Linked DNA regions of Homo sapiens. The protein of the gene in region 4 purifies or fractionates together with the protein of the main gene of each other region. This does not show direct contact. Each region holds a gene or a part of one and is shown on either strand. Other genes may lie near its edges.

Region 1 (3,500 bases), on a different chromosome or scaffold from region 4:
AGGTTGCAGTGAGCTGGGATCGCACCGTTGCACTCCAGCCTGGGCAACAGAGTGAGACTCCATCTCAAAAAAAATAAAAAATAGGTGAATACTACAATAAATATGGTGCTTTACCATGAAAAAGACCTGAAGTTTATTTGTGAAAGTGGGCATCAAAGCCAGGCGCGGCGGCTCACGCCTGTAATCTCAGCACTTTGGGAGACTGAGGCAGGTGGATCACGAGGTCAGGAATTGGAGACACACCTGGCCAACATGGTGAAACCCCATCTCTACTAAAAAATACAAAAATTAGCCGTGTGTAGTGGCACGCACCTGTAATCCCAGCTACTTGGGAGGCTGAAGCAGAAGAATTGCTTGAACCTGGGAGGTGGAGGTTGCAATGAGCCAAGATCATGCCACTGCAATCCAGCCTGAGCGACAGAGCAAGACTCTGTCTTGCGGGGGGAAAAGGTGGGCATCAGAAGGGTTGCAGCTTGAGGACTACTATGGAATGGTAGAAGGAGAGTCATCCACAATCAGAGGGAACATTACACTCGTTGAGGATGGGTATGGCTCACAACACACGCTGTAAACTGAGGTCATTGGCAGATAGGTGTTTGAGATGTGTGTGTTTTATGTATCCTGTGTAGCTGGGTGAGGCTTTCCGTATTCACCTAGTGTTTCTCATGGATGGAGTCACATATAAGCAAACATGAACTTCTCATTATAATCAAATTGTTCCCTAATATTTCAGTTGCACTGAAATAAATTGATATTTTCAAAACAAGTATTCTAGCAGAACTACTGGCTTTTGACCCAAGTTCTCATGGTATAACTCATGCTAGTACCAAATCTGTAGCTCTTTGTCTCACATTGTAATAACATAGTTGGTTTCCAGTAACCTGGTGAGGAAAGACATTTCTTTTGGGGGTGCGGGTGTTGATTGCATCTGGCATGTGGCATTCTCAGAATAAAGAGGATCAGTTCAGCCATCCAAAAGCAGCAGAAGTGAGGTAGCAGTTAGGACCCTGGAGCAGAGACCTTTCCTGCCAAGGAGTGGACTAATGACATTGCATTGGTTTTGACAGGTACTTCTAAGTCAGGAGTACAATACAAAGGACATGTGGAGATCCCCAATTTGTCTGATGAAAACAGCGTGGATGAAGTGGAGGTTTGTGCTTCATAACTCCTAATCCGAGTCCTCTATATCCTCTTATTCTCAGATGAGAAAAGTGACCTGTCATTCAGGATTCATAGCCCAGGCTTGGTCCAAGCATTCAGAACCCTAGCCTGCAGATAATTTTCTAGGCATATGGTGCCATTGGAAACTTCTAGAGCAATTTGCACTTCTTTAATTTCTTCACTTTAGCTAGTGACATGGGTTCTAACTAACATTAGCCACTTGACAGAGAGGACTCAAGAAGGAACACTAATGGGGATTGTACGAATACCGCAGTACTCATGCATTTCCTTTGGAAATGTCAGCAGTCACCTGATTGCTCAGCCCCCACATTCCATAATGAGGGTGCCCCTCAAGTTATTTACCACCTACTTCTCATCTTTCACCCAGATTAGTGTGAGCCTTGCCAAAGATGAGCCTGACACAAATCTCGTGGCCTTAATGAAGGAAGAAGGGGTGAAACTTCTAAGAGAAGCAATGGGAATTTACATCAGCACCCTCAAAACAGGTATCCCTTGAGTAGTTCTGTATGCCTTAAGGAGGTAGTTTCCACCTGTTAGACTCTGGTTAAGGGCCTGGACAGTCCTTTCTTTGGCAAATGGGTAAAGATTTGGGGGGAGGGGGCTTATTTCATCTTAAAGTCAGTCCATAAGCTCGGAGTAAGGGAAAGATCTGGAGCTGTGTTGCCTAATAATGATGGTTGAGCATTTTAGATGTGGCTAGACCAAACTGAAATGTACTGTGATGGCCTGGCGCGGTGGCTCACACTTGTAATCCCAGCACTGTTGGATGCTGAGGTGGGCTGATTGCCTGAGCTCAGGAATTTGAGACCAGCCTGGGCAACATGGCGAAACCCTGTCTCTACAAAAAATACAAAAATTAGCTGGATGCGGTGGCCCATGCCTGTAATCCCAGCTACTCGGGAGGCTGAGGTGGGAGAGTGGCTTGAGCCCAGGAGGCAGGGAGGTTGCATTGAGCTGAGATCATGCCACTGCACTCCAGCCTGGATGACCAAAAAACACAAGAGATGTGCTGTGAGTATAAATTACACTACGGGCTGGGCACAGTGGCTCACACCTATAATCCCAGCCCTTTGGGAAGCCGAGGTGGGCGGATCACCTGAGGTCGGGAGTTCGAGACCAGCCTGACCAATAGAGAAACCCCATCTCTACTAAAAATACAAAATTAGCCGGGCATGGTGGTGCATGCTTGTAATCCCAGCTACTCAAGAGGCTGAGGCAGGAGAATTGCTTGAACCCAGGAGGTAAAGGTTGCGGTGAGCCAAGAACGCGCCATTGCACTCCAGCCTGGGTGACAGAGGGAGACTCCATCTCAAAAAAAAAAAAAACAAAAAAAAAACTGTATTTGAGGCTCACATTATATTTCTAATGGACAGCGCTAATCTAAAGACTTGGCATCTCTGGACTCATTACTTGAATACAGTCTGGACTATCTTTGATATGCACTCTCCAGGGATATTTAGATGCTTAGAATAGAAGTCAGCTCAGCTTTCCCCTGGGATTCCATTTCTGCCAGTGTATTCTGATCTTGGTGTTGGAATATGTATAATAACCATCAAAGAAGGTGATGGAAGGTGATAGACACCTTTTTGGGGAGGACCAGTACACCAGTGCCATAACTAGTTGTGGCTTTTCTGCAGAGGTAAGGCAGAGTGGAGGAAAGGCACTAACCATGCATCCATAGGTGCTGGGTAGATTACCCACTCTTGAAGTCATCAAAGTGCCACGGCGTTCACGCCATCCTTCCATAGTAGACCTCACATGCACTTAATATGTTATAATGTTTCCAGTTGAGTCAGGATAAGCTTTTAAAAATAATCCCAGTGGCCAGGTGCAGTGGCTCACACCTGTAATCCCAGCACTTTTGGAGGCCGAGGCTAGTAGATCACAAGGTCAGGAGATCAAGACCATCCTGGCCAACATGGTGAAACCCCGTCTCTACTAAAAATACAAAAATTAGCTGGGCATGGTGGTGCACGCCTATAATCCGAGCTACTCAGGAGGCTGAGGCAGGAGAATAGCTTGAACCAGGGAGTCAGAGGTTGCAGTGAGTTGGAGTGCAGGCTGCACTCCAGCCTGGTGACAGAGCAAGACTCCATCTCAAAAAAAAAATAATAATAATCCCAGTGAACATACTGTATTCTATAGCATATACCCAGGTACCAGTCTGGCATAGGCCAAAAGTAAAGATGTAAAAATAGCCTCTTCCTTTTCTGGTCATAACCTCATTCTGTGGTAGGATGGCTGTGTTTGTCAAGCTGTAATGAAACTCCAGATCTCAGCTACTAAGAAGTAACTTCCATGAGCTGGAATTTTATCTT
Region 2 (3,500 bases), on a different chromosome or scaffold from region 4:
TATGATTTCTCTAACGACTCCTTTTACAAGGAATATCTTGAGTAGCCCAGGTAACTTACTAATTCAGTTTCTAACCCTCTCTCCAAAAGCAATACAAATCAAGAAAGAGGGTTAAACATTTGTGGGTAATGACTAAACAAATCATATTTAGCTATTCCTTAGCTATTCCTTTTTCCAGTTCCCACTGTCATTGTCCTAAATCTTTACTATACTCCTTGCGTCCTGACTGTATCCTCATTTTTAACATTGACCTTGCTTCCCATCCCTACACCATTTAAGCATATTCCTATTTTAGAAACTGTTCCCCTCCATTCCACATTCCATGTCCTCTTTGCCCTTTCTACAATGAAACATCTTGAATAACCTCCATTCGCTTCATATATTTCCTGCCTCCTCTTTACTCTTCAAGCCACTCCAACCTGCATTCCATACCTACCACTCCATGGAAACTGCTCTGCCTAAGAACATCAATGATGTTCATCAATCCAATGGATATGCTTTAGATCTCATCTATTTAATCCTTTCAGCAGTATTCAAGCCAATTTACTACTTCCACCTTGCCATCCATGACTGCCACATTCTTCTAGTTTTTCTCTTACATCTCTGGCATCCCTTTTCACTCTCCTGTGCAAGCTTTTTTCCTCTGCCAATCCCTTAAATTGTGATTGTGGTGGTTTAAAATTTGTCCACAAATTCTTTTCAAAAGATAAAGCCTAATTTCCCTCCTCATGTCTGAAATTCCCATCCCCAGGAGCATGAGTGGAATTTAATGGCTTGTCTCTAATGAACAGAATAAGGCAGAAGTGGTGGTCTCTGACTAGGTCATAAAAGGGATTGAGGCTTCCTCTTTGCTCTCACTTGGATCACAGCCAGCTGCTCTGTCATGATGACACTTAAGCAGCTCAATGGAGAGGCTACCTGGTGAGGAATGAGGCCACCTTCCAACAGCCAGCAAGGAACTGCCACTTTCTGACAACAGCCATGTGAGTCATCGTGGAAGCTGATCTTCCTGCTCCAGTCAAGCCTTTCAGATGACTGCAGCACTGGCTAATATATTGACTACAACTTCATAAGAGACCCTGAGCCAGAACTCAAAGTTCTGACCCACGAAAACTATGAGGTAACAAACTGTTGTTTTAAATTGCTACATTTTGGAGTAATCTGTCATAACGCAATAGATAACTAAATCCAGTGGTATTTTCCAGAGTCCTATCCAAAGATCTCTATTCTACTCACTCTCTCAACTCTCCATATATGAAAAACTAATATTTATCTGCAGCCCAGATTTATTTTATGTTTTACTGACTGATAAGAGGATATGCAGCCCAGATTTTTGTCCCAAGCTCCAGACTGTAACACATCTTTATGTCAATTTCAACATGCCCCAAAGCAACCACTTCTCTCCCCCAACCTGTTCTTCCTATCTTCCTTTTTATCATTCAACCAGCTCAAGCTGAAAACCTGGATGTCTTCAGACTCTTCCCCTTTCACTCACATCCAATCACTAAATCCCATCAAAAGCAACCTCCTGATTACTTCTCCGCAACCATATTCTTTAAAATAAAAAAAAAAACACACATTTCACCTGAACCTACTGATCAATTTTAACATCATAGAGAGACAAGCTAACATCATATGCCTCTTGATTTGATAGGTTCCACCTATATTCTTGCCCAAAAGAAAAAAAATAAATTTGATTAAGCTTTCAGCTCAAATTATCAATTTATATAGGAAATACAGAGGACAAAGGAACCTGTTTAAACATACCAAAATGATGCTTCCAACAAAATCCAAAATGCAGAAAATTCTACAGAGTAAATGACCTGGTGTCTTAGACAAATAAATGGCCAAGAAAAAGAGAGGGAGAACTAGAGATTAAAAGAGACTCTATAATTTTATATGCAGATCTTGTTTGGAATTCTGACTCAAACCAACTGGTAAGGAAGAAATGTTTGCGACATTCTAGGAAATTGAACAGACTGGATATTTGATATTAATAAATACTACTATTTAGCTGTAATAAAAGTGTTTTGATAACATTCTTTTGAAAATAGAGGGACCTTAACTTTCTTTTTTTTTTTTTTTTGAGACGGAGTCTTGCTTTGTCGCCCAGGCTGGAGTGCAGTGGGACCATCTCGGCTCACTGCAAACTCCACTTCCTGGTTCAAGTGATTCTCCTTGAAGGGAGAGGCTGAATTCTTGGCCTCCCAAGTAGCTGGGATTACTGGCGCTGGCCACAGCAGGGCAAATTTTTGTATTTTTAGCAGAGATAGTGTTGGCCAGGCTAGTCTTGAATTCCTGACCTCAGGTGATCTCCCCGCCTCGGCCTCCCAAGGTGCTGGGATTACAGGCGTGAGCCACCATGCCTGGCCACATACTGAAATATTCACAAGAAATAATAATCTGGGATCTGCTCTAAAAATAATTCAATAGAGGAGGAAGGAGTTAATGGGAGTACTAATAAAACAAGACTGGCCATATGTTGATACTTGTATAAGCTGGATGAAATGAATTCATTTTACCGTCCTCTTTAGTTTTATGAATGTTAAAAATTTTCTATAATAGGCTGGGCACAGGGGCTCACGCCTGTAATCCTAACATTCTGGGAGGCCGAGGCAAGTGAATGCTTGAGCCCTGAAGTTCGAGGCCAGCCTCAGCAACATGGTGAAACCCCGTCTCTACCAAAAATACAAAATTAACCAGTCTTATCAAAATAAATGAATAAATAAAATAGATTTATTTTTTTAAATTTCTATAATAAAAGATTTTTCAATAATAATAAAAAGTGCTTACAACACTGAAATAGCTCTCCACTGCCCTGGGGATAAAGTTCAAATTCCTTAACATGGTTTGCCAAGAAAGCCTTTCATTATCTGTCCTCCTGCTTAGCTCCCCAGTTCATCTCTCACTACTACCTACCTCACAGCCCAACCTCCAGAACTGACAAGCTGCTTACTCTTCTCTCCTCCAAAAAACTTTTATTCCCTTTGTCTCAAGCACTTTTCCCTCTCTGCTCATACGGCTAATCTCTCCTCATCATTCAAGTCAAAACAAACCTGCTTCTCCAAGGAAACCTTTCCTAACCCTTCAAGACTGAGTCAAGTAGCCCACCTATGTATCCCCCTGTGCTTCCTCTATCACAGCTCTTATCTGGTATGTCCCCCAACATATTATAGGTACCATGAGAGGATGAACAATTTCCATCTTATTTGCCACTTTAACCCCACTTCCTAACAAAGTGCCAGGCACACAATAGGTACTCAGTAACCTTTCATAAATTAACAAAAGGCACAAACTCCTCTTTCTAAACTTCCAATTCCTCATAGATCTATAACTCCCCCAATTTCCTTCCTTCCATATCTTCTTTTGTGATCATAAGCCACATAAACAATTGGTTGCTCACATAGTGTTCCTAAATTTATATCCTTAGTTCTCCCTGGCCATTTCATCTAATAAAAATTCAACTAAGGTGAGGCTTGTGTAAATCTATTCAGTTCACA
Region 3 (3,500 bases), on a different chromosome or scaffold from region 4:
CTTCTGCACCTCCTTCAGCAGGAGGTCAAAGGGGAATGGCGACAGCTAGGAGACAGCAGGGGTCAGATCAAAAAGAGGAAACTCAGAGGGCAGGCAAGATCCAGCAAAGGGAAACTGGTGTTCCGAGCAGGGAAGGTCAGGAACCTGAGGGCCACACCCCAAGCAAGGCTGTTCTGTGAAGGCACCAGAGCCCTGACCCCCGCTGGGGGGACACCCTGATGGCACCACCTGCCCTCACCTGCTCAATCCTTGTGATGGCCACCTGCCCCACCATGTCGCGTGCTTTGCGCTCCCGGGTGAGGTCATAATACACTTTGCCGGTGCAGAAGAGAAGCCTTTTGACATTTTCTGGGTTCTGAGCTGCAGGGCCATCTTCTGGGATCACCCGCTGGAAGTGGGTTCCTACAAGAGAGTTCCCATGGCTAGGCTGGTTCTCTCAGGTATGTGGCTGAGAGCTCTCCTGGGCCCAGGGCTGTGCCAGGGACTGCTGCCAGGAGACGCAGCTTTCAAGGGTTAGAGATGCTTCCCCTTCACCAGCCTCTGATGCCCTGTATTTGCTCAGACCAGGCACACTTTGAAAAGCACGTTACGTGTAACAAATACACAGCAGACATGGCCAGCTCTGGGTATCAAGTAACACCAGGCTAGCCTTCAAAACAGCTTGGCTCAGACTTCGGGGACAAGAGTATTATTAAAACATCCCGGCCGGGTGCGGTGGCTCACGCCTGCAATCCTAGCACTTTGGGAAGCTGAGGCGGGCGGATTGCCTGAGTTCAGGAGTTCGAGACCAGCCTGGGCAACATGGTGAAACCCCGTCTCTACTAAAAAAATACAAAAAATGAGCCAGGCATGGTGGTGTGCGCCTGTGGTCCCAGCTACTCGGGAGGCTGAGGTGGAAGAATCGGTTGGGCCCGGGAGGCAGAGGTTGCAGTGAGCTGAGATCATGCACTACAGTCTGGGCAACAGAGCAAGACTCCATCTCCAGACAAAAAAAAAAAAAAATACCAGCCGGGCGCATGGCTCACGCCTGTAAATCCCAGCACTTTGGGAGGCTGAGGCAGGCGGATCACCTGAGGTCAGGAGTTCGAGACCAGACTGACCAACATGGTGAAACCCTGTCTTTACTAGAAATACAAAATAAGCCAGGCATGGTGGCGCATGCCTGTAATCTCAGCTACTCGGGGGGCCGAGGCAGGAGAATTGCTTGAACCCGGGAGGCGGAGGTTGTGGTGAGCCAAGAATGCGCCATTGCACTCCAGCCTGGGCAACAAGAGCAAAACTCCATCTCAAAAAAAAAAAAAAATTATATAAAAAAAATCCCATGTTTACTCTGTTTCTGCTGCTCAGAATTTTACAAATATAAAAACTTTCAACACAATCAGAGAAAATATTCAGATAGAGAACAGTGGGTTGGCCAGCACTTTGGGAGGCTGAGGCAGGAGGATCCCTTGAGCTCAGGAGTTCGAGACCAGCCTGGGCAACATGGTGATACTCCGTCTCTACAAAAGTACAAAAATTAGCCAGGCACGGTGGTGCACACCTTGTGTTCCCAGCTACTTGGGAGGCTTTGGTGGGAGAATCACTCTAGCCTGGGAGGCAGAGGTTACAGTGAACCATGATGACCATGCCTCTGCACTCCAACCTGGGTGACAGGGTAAGAATCTATCTCAAAAAAATATAGAAAAGTGGGTTGAATGGTACAAACATACAGTTAGATAGAAGGAATTAAGTTCAACGTTTGATAAAGGAGTAAGGTTAACAAACATGTATCGTACTCGGGTGACGGACACCCTAATACCCTGACTTAAGCACTACGCATCATATGCACGTAACCAAAACCAGTTGTGTTTCTATACACTAACAATGAACAATAAGAAGAGGAAATTAGGCCAACAATTCCATTTATGATACAAACAGAATAAAAGTCTGGGCACAGTGGCTCACACATGTAATCCCAGTACTCTGGGAGGCCAAAGTAGGAGGATCACTTGAGCCCAGGAATTGAGGCTGCAGTGAGCTACGATTGCATCAGCCTGGATGACAGAGTGAGACTCTGTCTCAAAAAAACACAAACAAAAAATAAAAAACAAAACAAATTAGCTCAAAGTGGGTCAAAGATCTAAACATAAGAGCAAAAACTATAAAACTCAGAAGAAAACATAGGGCAAAAGTTTCACAACACTGAATTTGGTAATGATTTCTTAGATATGACACCAAAGTCACAGGCAACTGAAGAAAAAATAGACAAATCTGACTTCATGAAAATTAAAAACTTGGCCGGGCGCGGTGGCTCACGCCTGTAATCCCAGCACTTTGGGAGGCCGAGGCGGGCGGATCACGAGGTCAGGAGATCGAGACCATCCCGGCTAAAACGGTGAAACCCCGTCTCTACTAAAAATACAAAAAATTAGCTGGGCGTAGTGGCGGGCGCCTGTAGTCCCAGCTACTTGGGAGGCTGAGGCAGGAGAATGGCGTGAACCCGGGAGGTGGAGCTTGCAGTGAGCCGAGATCCCGCCACTGCACTCCAGCCTGGGCGACAGAGCGAGACTCCGTCTCAAAAAAAAAAAAAAAAAAAGAAAATTAAAAACTTTTGTACATCAAAAGATACTAACAACAGGCCAGGTGCAGTGCCTCACGCCTGTAATCCCAGCACTTTGGGAGGCTGTGGTGGGCAGATCACCTGAGGTCAGGAGTTCAAGACCAGCCTGGTCAACATGGTGGAACCCTGTCTATACTAAAAATACAAAAATTAGCTAGGCATGGTGGCGTGCGCCTGTAATCCCAGCTACTTGGGAGGCTGAGGCAGGAGAATCACTTGAACCTGGGAGGCAGAGGTTGCAGTGAGCTGAGATTGCACTAATGCACTCCAGCCTGGGTAACAGAGTAAGACTCCATCTCGGAAAAAAACAAAAAACAAACAAAAAAAACACCCAAACCCAAAACCAAAACCAAAGATACTAACAACAGAATAAAAGAACAACCCATAGAACGGGAGAAAATATTTGCAAATTATATTTCTGATAAGGAATTAATATCTAGAATATACAGAGAACTCTTAAGACTCAAAAACAAGCAACCAGATTCAAAAATGGGCAAATAATTTGAATAGGCTGGGTACCGTGGCTCATGCCTGTAATCTCAATACTTTGAGGCCAAAGTAGGAGGATTCCTTGAGCCCAGGAGTTCAAGACTAGCCTGGGCAACATAGAGAGATCCTGTCTCTTAAAAAAAATTAAATTAAAAAAAAAAAGGATTTTAATAGACAGTTCTCCAAGGAAGATATACAAGTGGCCAATAAGCATATGAAAAGATGCTCAACATCACTTAATCATTACAGAAATATAAATCAAAGCCACAATGAAATATCATCTCACACCCATTAAGATGGCTACTATGAAAAAACCAGAAAATAGTAGGTGCTGATGAGGATGTAGAGATGGTGGGATCCTCATATACTGTTGGTGGGATGTAAAATGCAGCCACTGTGGAAAGTTTGGCAG
Region 4 (3,500 bases):
CTCCTGCCTCAGGGCCTGCCACCATGCCTGGCTAATTTTTTAATTTTTAACAGAGATGGCATTTCACCATGTTGGCTAGGCTGGTCTTGAACTCCTGACCATCCACCTCGGCCTCCTAAAGTGTTGGGATTACAGGCGTAAGCCACCAAACCAAGCTGAAATATTAATTAATCCTAAACTAGTTTAAGATGTTCCCAATTTCACCTCCACTCCATTAAAAAAAAAAAAAAAAAAAGGTGGGTTCTTACTGTCACCCAGGCTAGAATGCAGTGGCATGATCATAACCTTGAACTCCTGAGTTCAAGCCACTCTTCTGCCTCAGCCTCCCCAGTAGCTAGGACTCCTGGCCTCAAGTGATCCTCCCACCTCAGCCTCCCAAGTTGCTGGGAATATAGCATGCACAGAGGGTGTTATGTTAGCCATGGATCACAAACATTTGCTGTTAATCATCCATCTTTCTTGTGCTTCAGTGTTCATCATACTCATTATTTAGCTCAAAATGGTAGACCTGAATTTATACTTAGTATTGAGTTACAATTTAAGTTTCCTACAGAGATGCTTTTGGATATTTATAATTAAAAGCAATTCAATTTATCATAAATGAGATTGAAAACTGGTGAGAGCTTTAAGGCACTTAAATTGCTTTACAAAGATTGAGGGCAAATTTTTGTCCAGGGATGTTTTCCCCACCCATCTGCTGCTTAGGTTCACACAAAACATCTAATTGAAACACATTTTCAACGTTCCATACTTAGAGACAAAAAGCTAAAAATCTGATCCTATGTATTCAACCTCTTATGATCTGAACAATGGTTAACAATCTTCCTGAGAAATAGGTTCTAAGAGTAATGGAAAACACTTTAAAAAAAACAAAAAAACAAAAAACAAAACCAACAACCCAAATATGTGATATCAATTTGAGTGGTTGATAAAAGTCTTTACCGAGTAAAAACAGCATGGTCCTTCTGATCTAACACAATGATAATATCGCCTGGCTCCAGTCCTGGTTCTTGGTCTCCTTCACCATGGAATGTTATCTTCTGGCCATCTTTCATGCCTAAAAACAAAACATTAATTTTGTACTTTTATTAAATATCCAACTAAGGTCAGAATCATAAAATCTATACATAGATGTTTGTTTATGCATAAAAATCACAGAAATGACTAAGAAAGCCCACTTAAGTAGTTCAGTCCAATTTGCTCCTGAAGAAAGGTATCATAGTGGAGAACACAAACTCCAGAGGCAAAGAGACTAGCCTTCAAATCTCAGAGCTGCTATTCACTGGCTGGATTACCCTGGGGAAGTAAGCTGCATATCCTTTCCAAGTTTCAACTTTCCCACAGACACCTACACCTCATTAGCAATATTTAGAGTATTAACTCAACAGGTATATGCTGGTACTAAACCATGACTGGCTAACACTGGTTATAACCAAAAAATGTTAATTAAGTATTTCAGTTTCATTACTTATAACACATCAAATTACTTCTATTAAAAGTCTAACAGCAATGTAAATCAAGACCCTTCTATTGTAGTATTTATATATAAAACTAAAAAAATTTTAAATCTATAATCTTCTCTTGAGATAGGATCTTGCTCTGTTGCCTAGGCTGGAGTGCAGTGGCACAAACATGGCTCACTGCAGCCTCCATCTCCTGGGCTCAAGTGATCCTCCCACCTCAGCCTCCCGAGTAGCCAGGACCACAGACCAGCTAATTTTTGAATTTTTTTTTTTTTAATAGAGATGGGGGTTCTCATGTCGCTCAGGCTGGTCTTGAACTACTGGGCTCAAGGGATCCTGCCTCGGCATCCTATAGTGTTCGGATTACAGACCTGAGCCCCTGTGCCTGAAAATCCGTATTTTAAAGAACTATTCAGTATAGTCCCCTTAAAAAAAGGGTAATTATACTTTGAGAGGCCGAGTCAGGAGGATACCCTGAGGATAGCACCCTGGAGCACAGGAGTTCCAGACCTTGTCTCATTTAAATTAAACAAGCAAACAAAACAATCAGTGCTAGACACTCCCTTAGCCCATGTGGTCCGTAAAATACAAGGGGAGGAGTATTTTCTAACAGGGCAAAAAAACACGCCTTTTTTTTTTTTTTTAAACTGAGACTTCGTGCCCCTCACCTCTGACCCACATATTTTAGTTCAGTAAGGGTTTGGGCAACGTCTCTTAGAACATAACTCATGTAAGAAAACCTGTGTTTGTAGAGTATTACACCAAAGCAGTTATCTCCTGATTATTTCCCAAGATCACTCTGGTTACCTAACAGAGCAATCATGTTTCACCTTTACGTATGGAAAATATTAATCCTGTATAAACAGAGCCAACAGTACAATGAATTCCTACATATCCATCCAATTTGGCTTCAGCAGTTACTAACTCATGACTAATATTTCATGTATTACACCCCTACGCATGCCCCCCACATATACTTTCAAGCAAACTCCAACTATATCCATTAACCCACAAATACTTCAGTACGTACCTCTTAAATAAGGACTTAAAGCGCTATCAGTATCATACACTGACAAAATTAAACAATCTGTCTTTAATCGTGTATTGAGGCAAAATAACTTGTTATGCTAGGGAAGCAATTAAACTCAGCTAGGTTTTCCTGAATACAGAGTAAGAGTAGGCACAGCACAAATGCCTTCACTTGCTATATAGTTAGGGCATTAATTTCAAGTTCTCACTTACAGTCCATTGTTGATAGGTTCTTGGAAATTGCTTTAAATGAAATGACACATAACAAGACCAATTTTTTTCCCCTCAGCTGTGTTACAGTGACATGACATTATTTGAGGACCTGCATGACATTATTTGAGGTCATTCTGCTAGAAGTCCCAGTTTCCAAGAACCTATCAACAACGTTAAGACTTACTCTGTATGCTATTGGTATCAAGAACACCTCAAAGTATAAACCTTAGGCATGGGCCCACTAAGGGGTAAACACAGATTTATTAAGTTCAACAACTGGCCAAGGAAACTTATTTTTACCTTTCAATGTACTACATTCTTGGGTGGAACCCTGGGGGTCAGAGAGGCCAGTATCATGAGTCACATGATAGAATCCTATTGCAGCCACTTATGTTAATGTAGATTTGTATATTAATATGGAAATATGTTCAAATATTAACAGTTCCAGATTGGTATCATACCACAGTACAGTATAATAGTAGACCCATTTATAAACAGCAAAATCTGAAAAGAGATTACCATAATGTTGACTTAAGTTTCCTTCTGGGGTTATATACATTTCTTAAAATTTCTGCAGTGTATTGCTGTAATACATTTTAAAATGTTTTTGCAAGTTGACAAGAGTAAAATTTAAAAATTGACAAATCAATCAAATCCCGAGAATACAAAAAAAAGGTTATATAGTTATTTCTAAATCTGGAGCCCAATGGGTTAGGGAAGTGTCAAGTCTAAAAAAATGAAAGGTAGTCTATCAAATCAATTAACGGAGCATTTAAATATAATAGATGGGCAAGT
Region 5 (3,500 bases), on a different chromosome or scaffold from region 4:
TCCTCATCTGCTCCGCGCTTCTCTGGGCCTCTGATCTTTTTCTTCTTTTTTAACGCTTTCTTCTCAGCCCGAGCTCTTTTCCGTTGTTCAGCCTTTTCTTCTTCTTGCTGCACAAGGGCTGCTTCCTTCTCTGCAGCCTAGAAAAGTGGGAAGATGATGCATCGCTGGATGTGGCAATTACATTCACTGTACTGATTTGTCATGAAAGGGGAGAAGGAGTGGAAATTCATTACTAATGAAAAGCAGAGATCAGGAGAAAAACGTGGACAGGCTCACGGCTGTTCCACACCAGGGCTCATTCAGGTTCGTTGGAATTCTGGATCTGATGTCTCTGTTACATTAGCAATTTCCTCACCCTAATCATTACTCACCAAAAGGAAGGCAAAAAAATCCATAAAACTGGCCGGGCGCGGTGGCTCACGCCTGTAATCCCAGCACTTTGGGAGGCCGAGATGGGTGGATCACGAGGTCAGGAGATCGAGACCATCCTAGCTAACATGGTGAAACCCCATCTCTACTAAAAAAATACAAAAAATTAGCTAGGTGTGGTAGCGGGCACCTGTAGTCCCAGCTACTCGAGAAGCTGAGGCAGAAGAATGGCGTGAACCCGGGAGGCAGAGCTTGCAGTGAGCCGAGATCATGCCACTGCACTCCAGCCTGGGCAACAGAGCGAGACTCCGTCTCAAAAAAAAAAAAATCCATAAAACTGAAGCCCTAAATAAGTTGGGGTGTTCATGTTCCACTCACTAGGCTAAGTGAGGCTCTTCTTTATTCTTTTTCATCAATTCTCGTAAATTTTAGAGCCAAAATTCCCTCACTAAATGAAACAAGTACTTAATATTGGGGCTGATGTTTTAGAACAATGTAAAAATGACACAAGACAGGTTTAAGCATTGATCTAAATATTTTATAATTAATACTGAGTAAAAGACACTTAGGAAAATGTAAAACATCTTGACAAGAAACATCCATACCAAACTGAGCCAAAATAGCTACCAGAGGTGCCAAAGACTTCAAACATTGTCATTACCTTCATTCTCTGCTCATTGACACGAGCTAATCGGGTTTCAGTTTTCTGAACAGCTATATCCCAATCTTCTAAAGAACCTTGAAAGAAAGAGAAGCAAAACTTTCACTCTTTAGGATTTTGAAGGATACAATCACATAAATTTTTCTTAATTTCTCTGTACCTCCAGAAGAGATCTCTCCCATCAAACAATAAGAAAATGTAATCCCTGTAGGCTTGAAGTTCAGAATTCAAATAGTCCTTCTAAGTGGGTTTAAAATGTCCCTCTCCTTTCAGGAGAGACTTGAAAACCAGAATATGATCTATTAAGGGCTCTAAATGGCAAAGAATATGAAAACGAACGTTCTAATGCAAAAGTACATTTATATTAAGACTGAAGAATTTTAAGAGCTACTCAAATGTTGAGGCATTTATTTCTTATTTTTTGGTGGTCTTTGCAAGCCAGTTCTGAGGGGTCCATACCCAAAATCCAGACCAATACCCACAGATAAGTTCACATTATTTTTCTATTGGTTCTAGCTAACACTGAAGGCTCTGAAATTTAACAAGGGATGCAAAGGACACATTGAGCCATTTGCCTCTCCAAGCTCCTTTGTTGGATAGATGTTGTACTAGAGCACAGTGACTCTCAAAGGAGGGATCCTGCCCATCAAGAGACATTTGGCAATGTTAAGAGACATTTCTGGTTGTCATGTTTGGTTGTGGTGGTGAAGCTGCTACTGGCATTTCAGGGCTAGAAGCCAGGGATGCCCCTAAACATTGTATAACGCACAGTCCCCCCCACAGAGAATTAGAACCCTGTGCTACAGTGACATCACAGAGTCCTCCTTGTAGCTGCAGAATTTGAGAAGAGCTGCAGGAGGACTCATTTTCAGGACACTTGTGACAGTCTAATCATAGGGCACCACCTAAGGTGGCAGCATAAACACAGTCTGTCCCCAGACTGTAACCAGATGCTCCTACTTGAGACCAAACAGCAAATGGGTTAGGCTCCAAGCCAGAAGAGAGCTGGGGGTCCCACCTTCTGTCCTCTCCATGGTGAGTAACACTTCGCAGACGTGCTCTGGGTAGTCACTGGTGCACTGGACGGCCCGGTGCAGAGCCTTCCGGCAGTGCTGGGTGTCACCATGAGCTCTAAGGCAGAAAACAAAAAGTTGCTGCCACCAGGACACAAAGTGGAAGGCACTCGAAGGGAGAGGCCGTCTTCTCCCAGGTAGAAACTCACTCTTCAGTAACTCTAGCTTCTGAGAAGACCTTAGCTTTCAGATCTATCCATGATGCTTTCTCCTTCCAGAGTCTCTACAGTCACCTACGAAGTATTTCCCTGAAGCACTCTCTCCCTCAGCCATGTAGGGGCTACTGGAAAGTGTACCTGATATTGTGATCTGCAACCAGCATTCTGCCTTTACAGCATTCACATGTGCGGCACATGGCGGGGGAGTCCAACAGCTCTCTGTAACCTGATACAGTCCCCAGGGAAATTTTACTATGGCGTCCTACTGACAGGAGAGTTATGAATCCAGGGTAGTGTCAAATTTCATACCCAGAGTCAGATCTTTTTTTTTTTTTTGAAAGGGAGTCTCGCTCTTGTCACCCAGGTGGGAGTGCAATAGCACGATCTCGGCTCACTCCAACCTCTGTCTCCCAGGTTCAGGCAATTCTCCTGCTTCAGCCTCCTGAGTAGCTGGGATTACAGGTGCCCACCACTACACCCAGCTAATTTTTGTATTTCTAATAGAGACAGGTTTTCACCAGGTTGGCAAGGCTGGTCGCAAACAGATCCTTTTTGTACACTGCTAATCACAACAGCTACACAATTCTGCTAATCATAACTGTTATGCAACAGTGTATTCATATTTGTTTTTAAAACATTTTAAATATACATAATTATATATACATATTATGATGCTCAGAATAAATTCAGAGCACTGGTTCTCAAAGTAAGATCCACGTACCCCTGAGGATCTCCCAGAGCCTCTCAGGGGCCCTGCAAAGTCAAAACTCCTTTTATAATAATACCAAGACATTACTGGACTTTTTCACTGTGTTGACATCTTCAAGACAGTGCACAAGTAATGGTGGCCCTTAGCACAAATCAAGGCAGTAGAAATCTTTTTAATGCACTGTGTGATGAAATACTAAGTACACTTAAAGCCCTTCTGCATACTGAAGTACAATGGTTATTGCCAAAAAAAAAAAAAAAAGCATATTACTGTTTGAGTTGCAAGCTAATCAAGTCATTTTTTTCAAGGACACCATTTTTACTTGAAAGGAAACTTGAGTGACAAACCACGGTCAGTTACTCAGACCTGGGTATTTGGCAGACATTTTTGAAAATTAACAAAGTGAGGCTGCCACTCTGGGGAAAACCACTGACATTATTTGTTGCATGTGATAGAATTCAAGCTTTCAAGTGAAAATTAGAATTTTGGAAAACTTGTATCTGCCACCACAAGTCTGACAGCTTCCTACT
Region 6 (3,500 bases), on a different chromosome or scaffold from region 4:
ATCTTACTAGTTTTCATTATTTCTGACTGGCCTTGACTCAGGCTTTACAGGATTTTGAATTCTCACGGAATATACCACTTCATTTTTATCTAGAAAATGATTTTTCATTTCTCTCTCACAATCATAATTTCAAAGATCATTCTTGGAAAATTAAAAACAAAAGGGAAAATAAGTTACATAAATACTTTTTTGGATTCTTTAACAAAATTTCAAAGAGCAATTTTCAAACTTTCAATTACTCTTTAAAGAAATGAAATTTCCTAAAATTATATAACTCTTACTGGTGGTAGTAATTTTTAACTATTATCGATCCATATAACAGAATGAACAGAAAATACTTATATTAACCCATAGCATAATCATATATTTATTAAACAAGAGCAAAAGAATTCCAGCAAAATGGTTAGTATCAGGCAACACATTTGATTTTTGCACAAAAGACACAAGACATTGTTCTTCACTCACCACATGTTAACTAAGCACAGACTGATGGTTTACTCAGAAGATACCACTGCGAGGTGAAGTAAACTACAAAGCCAGGAAGAAAAAAAGCTTATTGGGTTAGTTTTAAGACTTAATATAACACATAGATTGTATGTGTATATGAAGTTCATAGGATTACAGACTGTACTTAAATTTTTCTCAAATCTCCCCAAATCAAGGGTGTACAGGCAAGGAATAAGGAATCTGTAATACCTCCCCCCATATCCTAGGTAAATATAATATTATGTAGCTGAGATTTTACTTGCAACTTTCATTTGAAGACTTAAACAACGTAATGAAAGGTGTACTGCATATTTTAAGTACATATTTACCAGCTGAATTACGGGGCAATTATTTGCTTTACAAAAGGATCTCTTTCATAATTCCATGAAAGTACACATTAAAATTTGATTTACATAATCTCAATTTACCCTAAAAAGTTTTCGGGAAAATGATGATGAATTTGAAGAGCCATGTGTCTATATGTTGAATTCTCATTCCTAATGTGTCAATTTGATCACTGAATAACTCTCTTGTAATTCAACAATGTATCAGAAATGGTTTCAGGAATGGTGACCCAAACTGAAATTTCAATTTAAGGAAACTCAATCTCAAATATAGTTTTTACTGTGACAAACCTTAAATAAATTCTATGCCCCATTTTAAGATGGTCATTGTCCAAAATCATTAATTACCTTCACGGTGATTTAAAATGGCAGCATTAAAAACAAAGATTGCTTATAAAATCTGAGTCTATTCTTGGATAGTGTGGCCAACCTCAGAAACATCATTTTATTTATCTTTCATATTTAAAGTTAGTAAAAAGCAGCAAAACCAAAAGACAAGCTAGAAAATAATATGTGCAACACACACAACACAATGAGGTTAATATCCTCTCTGGCAGAAGTATACAAAATCCATGTATATGGATGTTCCCTATGTCTATGCTTGTAAAGTACTGAAAATCTTGAAAACATAAGTAAATGGAATGAGGAGGAAACTGGTGAACTAAACTGTAGGACATCCATATAATCATACAATCAGCCATTGAAAAGAATGAGACCAATTTGTAATAAGGTGGAATAATATAAAAATATATTAAGTGAAAAAAGCAAGCCATTGCATACTCTCATTTTTATAAAATAAAATGAATGATAAAGGAGTAACTATAAATATGTAATTACATGGCTTAGAAAACATGGAGATATTCCCCAAACTGTTCACAGAGATGATACTGGCATAGCAGAAGTAGTCTGGAGGCTGAAGATCATGAGGGACTCCCTTTCTATGTTTCTGGCTTATAATATTTTTTCCAGTGATCACGTATTACCTTATTCTACCAACACCAGAATCAAAACCAATCTCAAGAAAACAAATATGTATTTGACATGTGCAATATTTTCTATAATGTGTCAGTTTTATTTGTATGTGTTTCCTGAACCCACCTTGCATGCATCTTCTGAGCCCATGCAGAGGGAAAGGGTAAACCTCGTGTGGGAATGGAAAACTTTTGTACCTAGCAATGCTGAAAAGTTCTGATTTTATTAATTCGGAGGAAATTTTGAAAATTCCAACAGGGGAAGAAAATGAGACGTTAAGAGAACACAAGACTGGTCCAGGGCAAGGACTGATGAAGAACTATATACACCACCAAGAATCAGTGTGAAAGCAAAGTTGAAGGAGAGTCAACAGAAGAGCAATTGAAAAAGATGACTAGAATGGACAGAGAACACAAACAAGCCAACCTTCTCCATCAAAGAGAAATTTTCTTTAATGGAGTCATCAAGAAAACAGTGATGTCCATTTATGTCATTACATTTTGCTAGCACTCTAAAGAGAAAAATGTCTAAGAAAACTTTTAAAGAGGGGTTTCCATATAACAAAGGAATCTCAATTCTGAGATGCTTGTTACCCAATTACAATAAACTTTCCTAATGAAATTATCTTAAATAATGTAATAATACTCTCATTTTAAAAAAAATCAGGGTGTACTTCTAGGGCAGTTTTATTCAATAAAAACACTAACAATTAGATGAGCCAAGAACTTATGTATTCACTCTTGCCCATATTGTGCTACTCGAATATCCAGTCTACTCTGGCCATCTAAGCTACCTAAACCATCATAAAATGAAGTAGCAAGGTATAGTAAACTAAAAATTGAGAGGAGGGAAAAAAAGCTGTTCTAGGAAAAACAGAGATATGTGCATTTGGTATGTGCATTTTGTTTTAACTTCTGCCTGCTGTTTAGAAGGCAATTCTTTTTCCTACTTGAAACAAATATAAAACAAGATTTTATACTTTGTGGGGAAAGAAACCTTAGAGATAGTATAATCCAACAATCTCATTTTACCAATGAGGGTCAAAAATATGAAAACAGTTTGCGCTAAGTTATACAGCAGTCAAACCATTGAGATCTAGGCTCTCATCCCAGCAATGTCGCATGTCGCTGGCACTCTAAGGTACCGAAGTTGGAGATGGGGGCATTTTGTGGGCTGGTATCACCGTGTGACTTGACCCTCCTACTGAGGTCTTTAATGGTTTTTCTTATACACATCAATGATTTACCTTTCCAGTCTCTTTTTCCAGAAAAGACTAGTTCTACACATTGCTAAAAGGAGGCTAAATAATTATCACCACCATCCCTACATTATCACTCAGCGCAGGCAACTGTACTCTGGTTCCTGGACAATCCTAACAAGATTATGTTAGTCTTGTGAAGAAAAGAGGCTCTGAGAATTGCCTGAGTTTCCACAGCAAGTCAACAAAGGACTAAGATTCCTTCCCTATACACCAAGACCCTCAAATAAACCAGACTGTAATTATGCTCTGTAATTTAACCTTACTTAACAGATAGTGATTTCTCATCTATAAAATCTACTCGAGACTAGGTTAAACTCTGAAAACAGTAATAACTTGTATCCTGTAATGAGGTTTTTTAAATAAAGAGTATAAAACTCACTGAAGAGAGAGAAGTATAGTAAAGATAAGATATATTGAAAAGTACCTCACCAGCAGTC
Region 7 (3,500 bases), on a different chromosome or scaffold from region 4:
CACATATAAGTTTTGAATTACTGACAAATATGAATAGAATCATTTATTTTAATTTTTAACAGAGGTAAAATAAAGCATACTTATCCAAAGGGATAACACATAATACTGGATATTAACCTAAAGGTGAAAAGAAAGAAGGAAAAAAGTAACAGTTTTATTTTTTAATATTTGCTATTTTCTTTAATGCCTTAGTTCTGGAGAAAGGCTAAAATCTCATCATATTGACATTAACACATTTTTAAAAAGTGTCTCTCAAGTGTAATATTTAATAAAACTAGGTACTGAAAAATGTTCTGAAATTTTTCAAGTCAATGTTGTTTTCAAGTATATTAAAATGCTCAGAAGAAAAAATTCTCCATGGTTATAATTCTGATCAATCTATAAATGTACTTTTTAAAAGAGAGTTCCAACAGAGGTGGATAATAGGTAAGTTCCTCAGACACAGGCATACAGTCTTTTTGAAGAAATAGAATGCCTTGTTACCACAACCTGGTTGATTTTTTTTTTTAAACACTGATTTCAGGCACAATGGCTGAATCCACTTCTGGGTCATCTTTCTCCTCCTCTTGGTTGGTTTACAAGAGTAGTGAATACTTCAGTTATGGACAGAAAGAAAGACACAAACTCTGAAACGGAGACTTCACTTTTCACTACAAAGAAATCAAAGTCACTGAGTTCTCATTGTTGTGTGTATCTGCTGCCCCTGTGCAAAAATAGGGGATTCAAACTTAACTTTAGGAGCAAGAACTGGATAAAAGATTCATCTACTGATTCAGGTAACAAGTTTTAAGATGGTATTGCTCACATCACATGAACAGGTTGGTAAAAGGTCCACTGTGTTTCTTTACCACTTTGGTCTTGCTGCAGTATTATGGTGCCCTAGTAGGTACATTCAGGTTTAGCTAGTTTCAGTCTGCGCAATCAGGAAGCAGGTCACTCAGTGCAATGACTCCATTCTGGGAGGATTTAGGGTAAACAGAGAAGAACCTCATTTGGTCGAGTTTTAGATAGTATGTGTCACTCTGCTGGTTGTGTTGTTGGAATTATTTTCCAAAGTGGTTTATGATAAACCCAGCCATCTCCCTGAAACAAATAAAAAGATAAAGAATCATCCCTCTAATATTATCAAAATCAGTAACCAAAACTAGAAGCAACACCTTCACTGAAATGGAATTCTATTTTCACATTCAAAAACAAGTTTTTGTGAAGGAATAAAGTCTTTGTGATTAAGACATCAAACGATGCCTGTGGTTTAGCTAGGATTTAGGTGAGAAGACATGGTATGGGAGGATCTAGTTTGTGACCCATGAACATTTAATTTTGCAAGAACCATTTGTAGCAATTTTGCCAATTTCGCCAAGATGCTACAGATTGAGCCTCACTCACAGAGTTATGGGCAGCAGGTGGAGTACAGAGAAATGATCGGGAAGGTACTAACTGTTCTCCCTGTCTCCACTGGCACCCCAGAACTCATTTTTTTTCTTTCCTTTTTTTTTTCCCCCAAGACGGAGTCTTGCTCTGTCAGCCAGGCTGGAGTGCAGTGGCACAATCTTGGCTCACTGCAACCTCCGCCTCCCTGGTTTAAGCAATTCTCCTGTCTCAGCCTCCCAAGTAGCTGGGATTACAGGCACGTGCCATACCCGGCTAATTTTTGTATTTTTAGTAGAGATGGGGGTTTCACCATGTTGGCCAGGCTGGTCTGAAACTCCTGACCTCATGATCCGCCCGCCTCGGCCTCCCAAAGTGCTGGGATTACAGACGTGAGCCACCGCGCCAGGCCCCCCAGCTCATTTTTCTTTTTTTTTTTTTTGGAGACAGAGTTTCACTCTTGTTGCCCAGGCTGGAGTGCAATGGCGCAATCTTGGCTCACTGCAACCTCCGCCTCCTGGGTTCAAGCAATTCTCCTGTCTCAGCCTCCCGAGTAGCTGGGATTACAGGCATGTACCACCACACCTGGCTAATGTTGTATTTTTAGTAGAGACTGGGTTTCTCCATGTTGGTCAGGCTGGTCTCGAACTCCTGACCTCAGGTGATCCGCCTGCCTCGGCCTCGCAAAGTACTGGGATTACAGGCATGAGCCACCGAGCCCGGCCACCCCCTAGCTCATTTTTAATGATATATAGATGTTCTCACTTAGAAACTCTTCTTTCTTAGAATCTGTTCTTGGTATATCTGCCTTTTTTTTGAGACAGAGTCTTGCTATAGGTTACCCAGGCTGGTCTCAAAAACAGTTGGTATTTATATACAGCCATACTACTTTTAAAAATAAAGATGTATAAGTGATAGCAATTCAACAAAGCCTAGTAAGCTAAAGTTCTCAGCCAAGTAGATACATTTTTATCTTGAACACATGTACAGCATACCTCTTTAATAAAATATTTGGTTTTCCAAGGTGTGCCTGTTTCAGTACGATGCCTTTCTTCAGTCCTCTGACGTTCTTCCAGGGTATGCTTATGCTCTGTGGCCTTATCAATTTCAGATTCTCTCAGCGAGTCTGTCACATTTTTCCACAATCGCCTGAAATCCAAAAACCACACATTTTACAAGCATTCTTTAAAAGAGATAATTAAATAGAATCAATACCCTCAAAATTACAATAATTTTATAAAATAACGTTTCCTAAATCACATCTACAATGTCATGCTTATGAATTCCAAGAATAACGATACTGTGCTGCTGATGGTTATGTCCAGGATGCTGCTCCTTCTGCTTCTTTTTAAATTAAAAATAATTTGTATTTTTCCAGGTTATAAAAGCAGGATTTTTTGTTTTTAGAAAACTTAGAAATTAACGAGTAAAAAGAGAAGTAAATTTTCAAAGTTGAAATGTAAGCAAGACTAATTGTGCTTCTGGACATGATGAAATAATGGGGAACACATTTATTTTCCTGCCTTCATCAACCAGGAAACCAGGCAACATATAATACAATAGTGGTTTTCAGATACTGAGCAAAAGGCAGTGCAGGGCAGTGATCCTTGAGAAAGGAAACAAATGAGGGGAGTCCTATGAGTGCTCTAACTCGCTGTCCAGAGTGTTTCTAGGCCACGCACAGGGAGAGGGAAGCTTAACAAATCTCAAGCAAAAAAAAAAAAAAACAAAAAAAAACTGCCACAACACTTCTTTAGGGAAAGAACTGTTTGTTGAACAAATGGTGCTGGGACAACTGGATATACATGTGAAAAAAATGTAGTAAGTTAAACATAAAACTACCATAAACCCAGCAATTCCACTCCTGGGTATTTACCCAAGAAAAATGAAAATAAATGTCCATACAAAGACTTGTAGGAGAATGTTCACAGCAGTATTATGGATAGGCAAAATGTGATATATCCATACAGTGCAATACTATTCAGCAATAAAAAGCAATGAACCACTGATACATGCAATTAATACTTCATGGATGAACCTCAAAAACGTTATACTAAGGAAATAAGCCAGGCATAAGAGATCACACATTGTATGATTTATATGAAATATCCAGAAAAGGCAAATTTATAGAG

Evidence for each region.
Region 1: the proteins of DNAJA1 (region 4) and AHSA1 purify together in Homo sapiens (affinity purification with western blotting; 2 studies listed by BioGRID, with this or other methods). This does not show direct contact.
Region 2: the proteins of DNAJA1 (region 4) and OSBPL9 purify together in Homo sapiens (affinity purification with mass spectrometry; 3 studies listed by BioGRID and IntAct, with this or other methods). This does not show direct contact.
Region 3: the proteins of DNAJA1 (region 4) and OGDH fractionate together in Homo sapiens (co-fractionation; one large-scale study listed by BioGRID). This does not show direct contact.
Region 5: the proteins of DNAJA1 (region 4) and SART3 purify together in Homo sapiens (affinity purification with mass spectrometry; 2 studies listed by BioGRID and IntAct, with this or other methods). This does not show direct contact.
Region 6: the proteins of DNAJA1 (region 4) and GOLGA4 purify together in Homo sapiens (affinity purification with mass spectrometry; 2 studies listed by BioGRID and IntAct, with this or other methods). This does not show direct contact.
Region 7: the proteins of DNAJA1 (region 4) and OSBPL11 purify together in Homo sapiens (affinity purification with mass spectrometry; 3 studies listed by BioGRID and IntAct, with this or other methods). This does not show direct contact.

Annotation. Positions count from the first base shown.
Region 1 is NC_000014.9:77,461,093-77,464,592, forward strand, and holds part of AHSA1 (activator of 90 kDa heat shock protein ATPase homolog 1), read left to right. Parts: intron 1-1,067; coding exon 1,068-1,150; intron 1,151-1,549; coding exon 1,550-1,667; intron 1,668-3,500. UniProt on the Homo sapiens protein: Acts as a co-chaperone of HSP90AA1. Activates the ATPase activity of HSP90AA1 leading to increase in its chaperone activity.
Region 2 is NC_000001.11:51,620,092-51,623,591, reverse strand, and holds part of OSBPL9 (oxysterol-binding protein-related protein 9), read right to left. Parts: intron 1,121-3,500; exon of another isoform or gene 1,048-1,120; intron 1-1,047. UniProt on the Homo sapiens protein: Interacts with OSBPL11 to function as lipid transfer proteins.
Region 3 is NC_000007.14:44,704,127-44,707,626, reverse strand, and holds part of OGDH (2-oxoglutarate dehydrogenase complex component E1 isoform 1 precursor), read right to left. Parts: intron 403-3,500; coding exon 239-402; intron 46-238; coding exon 1-45. UniProt on the Homo sapiens protein: 2-oxoglutarate dehydrogenase (E1o) component of the 2-oxoglutarate dehydrogenase complex (OGDHC). Participates in the first step, rate limiting for the overall conversion of 2-oxoglutarate to succinyl-CoA and CO(2) catalyzed by the whole OGDHC.
Region 4 is NC_000009.12:33,031,773-33,035,272, reverse strand, and holds part of DNAJA1 (dnaJ homolog subfamily A member 1), read right to left. Parts: intron 1,058-3,500; coding exon 943-1,057; intron 1-942.
Region 5 is NC_000012.12:108,530,174-108,533,673, forward strand, and holds part of SART3 (spliceosome associated factor 3, U4/U6 recycling protein), read right to left. Parts: intron 2,162-3,500; coding exon 2,049-2,161; intron 1,108-2,048; coding exon 1,031-1,107; intron 138-1,030; coding exon 1-137. UniProt on the Homo sapiens protein: U6 snRNP-binding protein that functions as a recycling factor of the splicing machinery. Promotes the initial reassembly of U4 and U6 snRNPs following their ejection from the spliceosome during its maturation.
Region 6 is NC_000003.12:37,358,271-37,361,770, reverse strand, and holds part of GOLGA4 (golgin subfamily A member 4), read right to left. Parts: intron 529-3,500; coding exon 499-528; 3' UTR 466-498; intron 1-465. UniProt on the Homo sapiens protein: Involved in vesicular trafficking at the Golgi apparatus level. May play a role in delivery of transport vesicles containing GPI-linked proteins from the trans-Golgi network through its interaction with MACF1. Involved in endosome-to-Golgi trafficking.
Region 7 is NC_000003.12:125,529,498-125,532,997, forward strand, and holds part of OSBPL11 (oxysterol-binding protein-related protein 11), read right to left. Parts: intron 2,518-3,500; coding exon 2,364-2,517; intron 1,084-2,363; coding exon 1,018-1,083; 3' UTR 1-1,017. UniProt on the Homo sapiens protein: Plays a role in regulating ADIPOQ and FABP4 levels in differentiating adipocytes and is also involved in regulation of adipocyte triglyceride storage. Weakly binds 25-hydroxycholesterol. Interacts with OSBPL9 to function as lipid transfer proteins.